Homo sapiens: one gene and its partners. The protein of the gene in region 3 interacts with the protein of the main gene of each other region in a pairwise test. Each region holds a gene or a part of one and is shown on either strand. Other genes may lie near its edges.

Region 1 (3,751 bases), on a different chromosome or scaffold from region 3:
GCCTACCCAAGTCATAGGCCCTATAAAGGGAAGACTTTCTGCATGCCATCAATGTCTCCTGTCCTACTGAACAGCCCTGAATCTGAAAGGGGAAGGTCCCCACCACCTCTCCATGGACAAATCACAAACATTTCACATTGAAAAAAATAATAATAATCTCCTGTAATTCAACCCAGGCCTCTTATGGCATTACCATTCACATATGAGAAAGTTGAACCTTAACTAGAAAAGTATATGGTTTTGGGGTTTTGTTTTGTTTTGTTTTGTTTGTTTGGGTTGTGGAAAAATAGATGTCAGAATCAAGATACTACAACAGTAAGAATTTAGGCCTGGGTCTGGAAAGGACATTTGAACATCAATATGTAATAGCAGTCCATGTCCAAAACTCACAAGTGAGATTATCAAATTCCAGGGGAGTCTATTAATGTGGCCAAAAAATCTACCCCATAATTTTGACATAAGTTTTCCAGTCCAAAATACAACCTACAGTATCATCTTATGGGTCCGGAAATGCCATACATCAAGCAAAATTACTACCGGAGAAATAACACTGTAATCATTTGCGGAGCAGTCTGACCAGGGTTCCCTCAGTTACGCCAACCGCCCCCAATCATCCTACCCACCTAAGTACTACCAGGTCAGGGGGATGCCCTGCTGCACGATCGGGCGGTCACTCCTCCTTTCCACAAGGCCCAGGCCCGCACCGTTCGCCCCGGGGCTCCCATGGCCCCTGACCTCCAGTATCCGGCAACGATGGACCGCCACAGACCCGGCAGGGGGCGAAGGGCGCACACCCACCTCCCGGGAGTTCGTGGGAATAACTCCGGGCGCTCCGAGGGTACGTCCCACACCCAGAGCCGCACGGGCCCATCCCCGCCAGGTCTGGGAAGGCAGCCCGAGCCCGGGACCCCGCCTCCCCCGCATCTAGGGTCCGGGCCGAGCTCGGCCGCCGAGCTCCCATTCCCACTCCCACACCCAGCGCCTCCCCCTGGCGGCGACAGCCGCCGGGGACGCCCCTCCCCGGGCCCCGCACGCAGTCCCCAGCCCTCCCAGGGCGCTGCCTCCTCAGAGGGTGACAGCCGCCTGGCCAGGGCCGGGGCCGAGGCCGGCCCCTCCTCCAGCTCTTCCTCACCCGCCGAGGAGACGGAGGACGGGGATGGGGTTCTTACCGGGCAGCAGGACATGGCGAGGCCCTCCACGGCACAGTCTCCCCCTCCGCCACCCCACCAGGCTCCCTGCCAGGGCCGGCGCTGGGCAGCGCCTGAGCCGCTGGGACGTCTCGTCCGGCTGCTACTCCGCCGCCGCCGCCGCCTTCTCACAACCACAACAACATGGCGGCAGCGGCCACACAGAGCGCGCTCCCGACGCCGAGCCGGGCGACGAGCGAGGACGCGCGCGCACGCTCGGGCGCTGAGCCCGGTGTCCGGGAAAGGGGGCGGGTCTCCGCCGGTTGGACGGGGGCGGGGCCTGGACAGGTGGTCACGCCCCAGGAGATGGGCGGGGCTGCAGCTGGGGAGAGGCTCGCGAAAAAGCCCAGCGGAGCAAGAATGGCTAGACAGATGGGAAATGGGTGGAGGAAAAGAGATGACAAAAAAAAATCTGGAAGAAAACCAAAGGTGGTCCTACAGATTTTTAGGAGGCGTCTTTTCCAAGCTCTGTAACCCTGGGCAAGACATGGCTCACTCTACTTACCAGAAAAATAGAACAATAGTGGTATCTTCCACCTGCAATTGTGGTCAGGATAAAACCAGTTTAATATAATGCAAGTAAATATAGTGTTTTAGAAGTTGTATTCAGAATACAATTTCTTTTCTTTTCTTTTCTTTTTTTTTTTTTTTTTTTTTTTTTTGAGACAGAGTCTGGCTCTGTCGCCCAGGCTGGAGTGCAGTGGCATCTCGGCTCACTGCAACCTCTGCCTCCCGGGCTCAAGCGATCCTCACACCTCAGCCTCCTGAGTAGCTGAGACTACAGACTCACAACATCATGCCCGGCTAAATTTTGTATTTTTTGTAGAGATGAGGTTTCTGCCATTTTGTCCAGGCTGATCTCAAACTCCTGGGCTGAAGCAATCCACCCACCTCGGCCTCCCAAAGCGCTGGGATTACAGGCATGAACCACCGCATCCGGTCCAGAATACAATTTCAAACTGATTCAACTTCAGCTCCTAATCAAAAGCTCAGCGGGAAGAAGTGAGTTTTCAAACAAAGTAAAAAACAACTCCCCCAAAAAATTGTAACCTACCCACACTAGCCTGCAGAATTCCACAAACCAGGATTGCATTACCGTAGGCCCTAACAGATTCACCTCCTCTGAGTTGCCTTTTAACATTCTACCCTTGACTTTTCTGGAAACTGGGAGAACTAGTCAAATGAAATCTATTCCTGCGTCTGTTGTAAAGTTTTTCCACAGCACTTTCTGAAATTTATTTTCAATGTTTACTGTCATTTTACTCCACTAAAATGTAAAAGCTACTTGAAGATAAGGATCTTGTCTTGTTCGTCACTGTTTCCCCAGCACCTAGAACTGTGCAGGTTAAGTAGTAGGCAGTCGAATTTCTTGATTAACTAACAGCTGGCTGGGCGCGGGGGCTCACGCCTGTAATCCCAGCACTTTGGGAGGCCAAGGTGAGTGGATCACCTGAACTCAGGTGTTCGATACCAGCCTGGCCAACTTGGTGAAACCCCGGATCTACTAAAAATACAAAAGTTAGCTGGGCATGGTGGCGGGCGCCTGTAATCCCAGCTACTTGGGAGGCTGAGGCAGGAGAATAACTTGAACCCGGGAGGCGGAGGTTGCAGTGAGCTGAGACTGCGCCACCGCACTCCAGCCTGGGCGACAGAGCAAGACTCCGTCTCAAAAAAACGAAACTAAACTAACAGCTAACATTTATTCATACAACTCATCTAATTGAATCTTCACAACTTTAATAGGTAGATGCCATTATCTCCATATTACAGATGAAGAAAGTGAAGCACAGAATAAATTGCGTGTATTAAAACAAAATTCAAACCCAGCAGACAAAAAAAAAAAAAAAATACTGTGCTGTCTTACCCACCAGGCTGTACTGCCCAGTGCATGGACACAGTAGCCTGAAATAAAATCTCAAGTAAGAAATTACTTTAGGCCGGGCGCAGTGGCTCATGCCTGAAATCCCAGCACTTTAGGAGGCCGAGGCAGGTGGATTGCTTGAGCTCAGGAGTTCGAGACCAGCCTAGGCAACATGGCGAAATCCCATCTCTACAAAAAATACCAAAAAACTGGCCAGGCGTGGTGGTGCACGCCTGTAGTCCCAGCTATTTGAGAGGCTGAGGTGGGAGAATGGCTTGAGCCTGGGAGGCAGAGGTTGCAGTGAGCCCTGATTGTGCCACTGCACTCCAATCTGGGTGTCAGAGAGAGAAAAAAGAAAGAACGAAATAAATTACTTTAGAGTTAAAAGCTTGGAAAGCCCTTGCTTTACTACCAGAAAAACCGGTGTGCTTCCTGCTTTTTGATAACTGTTACGCATCTGATTGTGTCTCTCTTTTCACTCTGGCTTCCAGAAAGCCCAGGGCTAAATGTGAAGCTCAGCAATGACCTCTTCTTGGCCCTTGAGGGTCCACTCCTGCCTCAACTTTGCACCTGTATTTATATGTGGCTGCCCTGATTTTCCCTTTCTGTTCTATGACTGACTATAGGCTTAATGGAATGGGAGAAGAAACAGTAAATACTAAAATTGATGAATGATTTAAAGTTTTTTTATTTTATTTTATTT
Region 2 (3,751 bases), on a different chromosome or scaffold from region 3:
AAGAGAAATGTGGGAAGAAAGAGGAAAGAAGATGATGGAGAAAGTAGAAAGAAACTCATCAGGAACCTATGGAGGAATCTGAAAGCTGCTTCATAGTCTTGCTGCTAAATTATCAGTGCAGTCTGTTGATTTTTGATGTTGTTAACTAAACTCTAAGTTTCTTCGACATCACTCTTGGGTTTATTTTCCCTTTTTCAACATGAAGGATGGGAAGGCCCAGGGAGCTTTTAGTCAGACCTTGGCCTCCAACATTTCCAAAAAAAGTTTGTGCATTGGGACTTTGCCTTCTAGTTTGATGTTGTAGAAATGCTGCACGGCCTTGGTAGAGGTCTGCCTCAGGAGTGGCAGTGTCATCAGCATCTTGCCAGCTCGACGAGGGTCTTCCATGTGCTGGCCAGCTTCATAATCCTGCAGCGCTTCATGTAAGACATCCTGAAGCTTCTGAACGGCTTCAACATCTTCTATGTGCATGGAGTCTGTGCAATGAAGCAAAAGATATGAGTAATTATAATAATAATAGCAAACCTATGTAGACTAGAGTTATAAAATTAGTTATTAATTTAATTATTTTTGAACTTCTCTGAGCTTGAACCTATGATTTGTTCAGAGTCTTGCATTTCTACAATCTCTATTTCTTTCCAAATTTCCCTACATAATTTCTAATACTAGCTTAGAAAATGGGAATTATTAGAAAAGATCTATGATTTAAAATGTGTATTTTTCTTTCTCAGGCTGAGCAAGAGAAGGCTTTCTTTTAACAGATTACAGTCTTGACTATTTTATTCATTGTCTCATCCAGGTATATATTCATTCACTCAATAAACAACCACGGAAGGCCATCTATTGAAAGTATTATCTTAGTGCTGTGTGGGGGAAGGTTGTTTAAAATTCTGATCTTGCCTGGAAAAGCCAATATTTCCCAAACAGGGGAAAAAATTGTTGACTAAGATTCTAAGAACTCCATGTGACTACATTGAATCTAGCACTATACAGAAATCACAATAAATTATTTATCCTTTCAGGATGTTTAATGTTCTAGTATCAGTTGATTAAAGCATCCTTACAGAGTCTACTTCCCTGATGAAAAACAAATGGTGTCTTCAGATCACTGAGTTCTGAAATATTTTTCGCATTTGTAAAGGTGAACTTTGCCCTTAAATGAATAATTTGAAAATCTAATTCAATCAAGCAAAGAAAGGGTTAACAAGGTTGCCAAATTATTCTTGTGAGAAATGTGAGATGTGGGGAAAAAATAAAAGTTACAGCTCCAGCTCTAAAGCAGACACTTAATTATATACAAGTTTGAATCATTTAGCACGTTTTATTGATTCTGATGACAGTTTATCTGTTAATTACACATAATGGAGTCTTTGGGGGATTCTTCATGTTTAATAATTCTAGTTCTCTGAGAATGCTGAGCTCTAAGATATATGTAGTTAGCCTAATCTTTCATACAATTCAAACATAGATCACATGAACAAAAAGAGAGGGAATGTAATTTAAAATCAAGTGGCTAAATATATAATAAAAATGAAATATGGCAAACTAATTAAAAGATAACCAGTAGCATGTCTTAAAAATTTATTTGTATTTTGTTTAGTGTTTTTTTCACTTACATTGTCATTTTGAATCATTCCACCATATCACTGGTGAACTGACCACTATTTACATTAGGTAGTTTAATGACACCTCTTTAAAAAATTTTTGAATAATCTGGAATAAAGTTGCTTATAAGTATTTACTGCTCAAGACTCAATTTCTGCCTGGCAGAGCAAAAAGAAGGAATTTTTCCAAGTGGGAAATAGCATTGATAGTGGTTCCCTGGAGCGGGACTCAAGTCACTCCCCAACATACGCCTGGCCTTTCCCTGTGGATTGTTTCTACCCAGCTTCTCTCCAGTCTGGTTCCTCTCAGCATGGCAATCTCATCCACCTCCTATGGTGCTGTCTCTTAGAAACAAACACACATAATTTCTAAAGTTGTCTAGGGGTTGGTAATCTTAGGGACAGAAAAACATTCATAGAGATGATGGCAACATGATCTGATATTCTTTCTCTCTATTTTTGCACTTAAATGCTACCTGAAGGAAAAATGGGAGGTATGGGGAAACACTATGGTGAGTCTCTAGATACACAAAAGACTGCAATATGGACCTTGTGCATAAGGGAACAGAGATGAGTTGGATTTTCCCAACTTATCCTGGGTCTAATAATTAGCTCTCTACATGAAAACAGAGTAATAGATGGAAGGAGAAAATGGGAATTACACTCTGCAGTGACAAAACAAACGAAATAACTATTTTCCAACTAGACCAAAAACACACCAGAATAAAAATAATACATTTACCATTTATTAAGCACCTATTTCAGGTGAACATGGCCTCATTTTACCTCCCCAAGCCCTAGAAGACACGTGGCACTGGTAATATGTGTCAGACACAGGTTTAAATTCAGGATTCTTCAAATCAATAATGCTGCTAGAATGTAGAACACTAAATTTGCATTCCCTTAAAAATTGGGATGAATTGTCCTCTAAACACATCCTATTCAAACTCCTATCTTCATCAGCTGTCTTCTTTACAACATTCTTAATGAAGACATTGCCAGTTGTATGAAAAGTATGTAGAGTATTCTCCTTGATAAGAGGCAAAACTAATTATTATGAATTTCCTCTTTAAATTTTCCTAAATCTGTCTCCAAATTCTATCATTTGGTCCTGTTTCTAATTACTAGAACAATACAGGATAAATTTCCTTTTTCTACATGGCATATCTTTAAGTGCTTGAAGTCAGCTGCACAGTTACCTCGGCCCTACCCATAGTCTTGCCTTTCCCACTACTCTTGCCCAGCAGGAGATATATTATAGGATGTCATGGGAAATGAGACAAGAACAAATAGCAGAGAGATATGCTCACAAACAGCAATTAAGATTTCAAACTATTCTTTCAAGGCTGTGATTTAGCATGAGAGATTTAAAAATGATTTAATCAAATTACTATGATAATTTAACTTCCCATTTATAGAAAAGATTCTAACTCATTTTAGCTTTACCCATTCTCGGATCTGCTAATACTTTAAATGCAAACTCACTAAATTTGAACTATTTAATTAGACAATGATTCAGCTGGCAGACTGCTGAAGAAAATATTAATCTCCATTAGGGATCCTAGTTCAAGTTCTGGATCTGTGGTTTTAATCTCTGTTTTGTTCTTTTGGTTAAATTTACACGTTGACACCAGGCTCAATAGAACTGGCATTAATGTATGTAATTTATTTTGTTTTCATTGTTCATGCTGGTTTCTTTTTAACTATGCTTTAAAGGAAATATTCCTAGTATTTGTGCTAATAGGAACCAGCTAAACTTAATGGATATCATAAGTTTATGAACTAACTAGACAGGACTAGGCTACATATTAAAAACAATGGGCGAGCTCTTAAAAATCTTGGATACTGGGCCCAAGTCTAGATCTATGAAGTAAGAGACCAGAACTAGGACATCAGCATTGCTGAAAATCTAGGTAGTTCTACTGCCAAGCCAGGATTAAGAACTACTACTGAATTAGACAATAAGACAAGCAAATACTATTCTAAAAGAATAAATATTTCAAAAGATAACCAGAGTGTATATGAAACACATATTATTGCCCACATATTAAGTCTAACACCTAATAATAAAATAGAACTTTATCAAAACTTCCAATATTTTACTCTGTGAAAGAGATCCTAAAAAAATGTGTCTAGTTCAGATCATT
Region 3 (3,751 bases):
CAAAAGTAGGTGTTGATCCTTGTTTGACTTTCCAACCCTGTTGAGTAGCCAGGCATTCCTCTGAAAGGATATGGCTCCATAACTCTGCATCCTGCAGTGTCTGGGCATAAGGCTTTCTGTGCCATGGGTCTGTAAACAGAAAGGGCAGAGAGCTAAAAATCAAGAGTCCTGAGGGCTGGCTCCAATTCTGTCATGGCCAGACTGAGCAACCGAATACTGACTGCTCAATCTCATAGTTGAAAACCAGGCTGAGGCCCTGATCTCCCTCTTCCATGCTATACCCCTAAACAATGCTTATGATGAAAGCAAGATCCACAGAAAAGAAATGGAAGCCATCAGCTGGGCTACAACTCCCTTCAACAGCCAAGAACATACAATAAAATGGCTTTCACAGGGTTCCAAGAGCCCTGTGGTAGGGTTCGTCAATTGCCATGGCCAGGTCTGAACCTATGAGGGCCAGTTTAATGTCCAGGTCATAGCCATAGCACTCAGTAGGCTGAACCTGGGAAAGCTTTATTGTGCCTAAAGCCCTGTAAAGGCCACATAACAGTCACCATCCATCCCCAACAGCCAGGACCAGGGGTAGGTGCCTGAACCAAAGGCATATAATCCAAAGGGTGACCAACTCTTTTTGGCGTGAAATACTACCAGACCAAACTGATTCTCTCATTGCAATCTGGTCTCTGATCTGAGAAACACTTGAGAGAAGAAAGGAGTTAAAGAGGAGCTGACAGGTCATGATATGGAGGAGCCCAGAGAGGCCACACGAAAGTAAAGGTATTGGGCAGAGGCAGATTCTACAAAGAAGGGAAGCTGGACAGCAAGTGGCTGCAGAGAAGGGATAAATCTTGGCAGAGAAAAGCAGAGATGTCACTAGAGATAAAGACAGACAGCCACACAGGCCATGAGATAATCCACGGAGCCCATGAGAGGCGGTACCTCAGAGCTGTCTGGGGACTTTCCAGCTCTTGCCACAGATCCCCCTTCTCTTTTTTCTTTTTCTTTCTTTTAAGAGACAGAGTATCTCTCTGTCACCCAGGCTGGAGTGAAATCTCCAACTCCTGGGCTCAAGCGATCCTCTGGCCTCAGCCTCCCAAGCAGCTAGGCCTACAGGCACACACCACCACACACCTAATTTTTTTTAGAGATAGGGTGTTGCTATGTTGCCCAGACTGGATGCCAACTCCTGGCCTCTGGTGATCCTCCCACCTCAGCCTCCCAAAGGGCTGGGATTACAGGTGTGAGCCACTGCACCTGGCCTATCCCTTTTCTTGAGATAATTGAAAAATCCCGATTCCTTCAAATCAAAAGAGGTTTAATTCTCAGGAGCCACAGGCTGAATCTTTAATGAGGTCACTATGAAGGCTGGGGATCTAGTGTGGATGGTTTAAGACAAAGTCACACTTCTGATGGAAAAACAAACTTGAAAGGGAGCCAGCATTTTTTCTGTGTTAACCACAGCCCAAGTGCTTGACATCTCTTATCTCATCATTCCTCATAACCCCATTCTACTTCCAGGTGCATAAGTCCCCATTTTACACAAGGGAAGCAGGTTCAGTTATGCAAGTAAAACCACTTATTGTAAATGGTGAAGGTGCCTGCTCAGTCTGACTCCAAAGCCTCATTCAAAAAGAGGCAGGAAACCATATGACTTCAGCAGGAGAGAGCAGAGATTTCTTTATCTCTGGTCAGTGGCTTACCCATGGGCCAATGTCTGGTGGCTGCCCCCAAATTTCCCAACACTTTATGATAATGTCCATTCTCAGGCCCCAGCCCCAGAGAGTCTGATTCAGAATGTTGGGGTAAAGCCTCAGAATCTGTATTTTGTAGGTGAGTAAAATGCACTTCAAGGCTTCAGAATCCCTGGGCTAAGAGGGAGGTTAGCAATGGCTTCTCATGGATGAGGAAAACACACATCTAGCCCAGTAAGCCAGAAAAGAGGATAAATCCTAGATTCTAAAAATTCTGAAGTCTGCTCCAAGTTCTGCATGGTATGGGCAGAGTAAATCGTTTATGATACTAGTAAGACAAAAGCTATACAAAGAAATGCAATATAGGGTTCTAAAGGAACTTATACTCAATGTGGGAAAAATGCAACCAAAACAATACAGCAGTATATGCCATATACTATTTAAGCTCTAGAAAAACTGGGGAGTGGGAGGTGTCAATTAGAACTTTCTCTTTCCCTTCCAGTTTCCCCACAAGCTTTTAGAGAAAGGGGGAAAGAAAAGGAGGTAGAGGAAGCAAAGATTCTCTCCTGCCTTGATCTCTGGATCCCTACTGAGGAAATGGAAGAAATGACTTTCACTGCAGCAGGAAGGTGGCCTCAGAGTCAAGTATGGGCTTTGCAATCAGACAGGTCTGGATTTAAATCCCAGTGCCACCACTCAATTACTGTGTCACCTTGACAAGCGACTCAACCTGCCCGAGCTCAGTTCCTCATCTATAGAGATAACATTTACCTTCAGAACTGTTGTAAATATTCAATGAAATAAAAATTATAATATGTACCTAATAAGAATGGGATATAGCCTTCAAAGACTGAAAGAGAACCTAACAGAAACCAATCAAATTATTTATCAAAATACCGATTTAATCCACCTTTTTGATTCTCTGTTCTCCCCTGGGAGAGGGGATCTGTTCACCAGGTTGACTCAAATTGTATCACCTAGACTCCCTTTGCTGGCTTCTGGTTGGGTTTGTCCAGTGGAAGATACCAGATCAGAGGGTGCCCCTCACCCCCAATCTAGTGGCCACATTTCTGATAGTGCCTGCATCTATCGAAGACTATGACTTATGTTGGGCAGCCCTTCCTCCACAGTTCCAGCTATCACTGAAATGTGGTAATACTGTTTCCTCCCCTGGCCCCTTTGGAATAGGGGCAGTAGCCACTCCCAGTAGTTGTCTTGGGGCTCCTCAACATCTCTTATTGGTTCCCTGAAACCCCCCCCATACTGCTCTAGAGTCCCATCATAAAAGTCTCCTGAACTACCTGAAGAGGGTTCCATTTTCTGCCAATAACTAAAATGATCCACCCTCCCTTCTCACAAACTGACTTCTCCCAAGTGTGACACATCCTCTAGTGGCCATGTTTGAGCCTAATTATTCTGTCCATCCTTTCCCTCAACCCCCTAAAAGAACTAGAGTTTCTTTCTCTTGGAAACATGAGTTCAGAACTGAACGAGAAGGAATGGTCTCTTTTACAGAGGAACTGGGAAGGAACCACATTTTTTCTACCACTGGCCCAAGAAATAGAAAACCAATCTGTAGGGAGACAAAAACAAAGCAAAGAGGGGGAAAAAAAAAACCAGCAGAGATTAGGATTCCTGGAGAAACACTTGCAGCCTTGTAATCCATACTGTTTTGCTTGAGCCGATGTGTTGGTTACCATTACTAGCAACTGAATCCTCAACACATCGTGAGGTTAATTTCAACTGCTTCTAACTATCACCAAAACAAGATGAAATATTCCCTGAAATAGTAAAAGAACCAAAGGCTGAAGGGAAAGTGACATCAGAAGCTGAAATGGACGTTACTGGACCAAAGGTGAAAAGTAAAACACAAAATGACTAGGACTATACAAGCAACAGGAGTTCAGGCAGGCACTGCTTAAGGTGCACTGCCGGCACTCTATAACCAACGCAACAAAAGTTTAGGAGATTTCAGAACTGAATCAGTTGAGATTCCATGGTAGGCTCATTCACCTGCATCCTGACCTTTATTTGGATGGTGTAAATTGTGTTTTGCTCCT

The links.
Region 1: the proteins of EXOSC7 (region 3) and MTMR3 interact in a two-hybrid assay, tested with the Homo sapiens proteins (one study listed by IntAct).
Region 2: the proteins of EXOSC7 (region 3) and ESRRG interact in binary tests that used the Homo sapiens proteins (3 or more experiments, as listed by UniProt).

The regions. Positions count from the first base shown.
Region 1 is NC_000022.11:29,880,778-29,884,528, reverse strand, and holds the start of MTMR3 (phosphatidylinositol-3,5-bisphosphate 3-phosphatase MTMR3), read right to left. Parts: upstream 1,356-3,751; 5' UTR 1,170-1,355; intron 1-1,169. UniProt on the Homo sapiens protein: Lipid phosphatase that specifically dephosphorylates the D-3 position of phosphatidylinositol 3-phosphate and phosphatidylinositol 3,5-bisphosphate, generating phosphatidylinositol and phosphatidylinositol 5-phosphate.
Region 2 is NC_000001.11:216,506,708-216,510,458, forward strand, and holds part of ESRRG (estrogen-related receptor gamma), read right to left. Parts: intron 477-3,751; coding exon 232-476; 3' UTR 1-231. UniProt on the Homo sapiens protein: Orphan receptor that acts as a transcription activator in the absence of bound ligand. Binds specifically to an estrogen response element and activates reporter genes controlled by estrogen response elements.
Region 3 is NC_000003.12:44,979,145-44,982,895, reverse strand, and holds part of EXOSC7 (exosome complex component RRP42), read right to left. Parts: intron 1-3,751. UniProt on the Homo sapiens protein: Non-catalytic component of the RNA exosome complex which has 3'->5' exoribonuclease activity and participates in a multitude of cellular RNA processing and degradation events.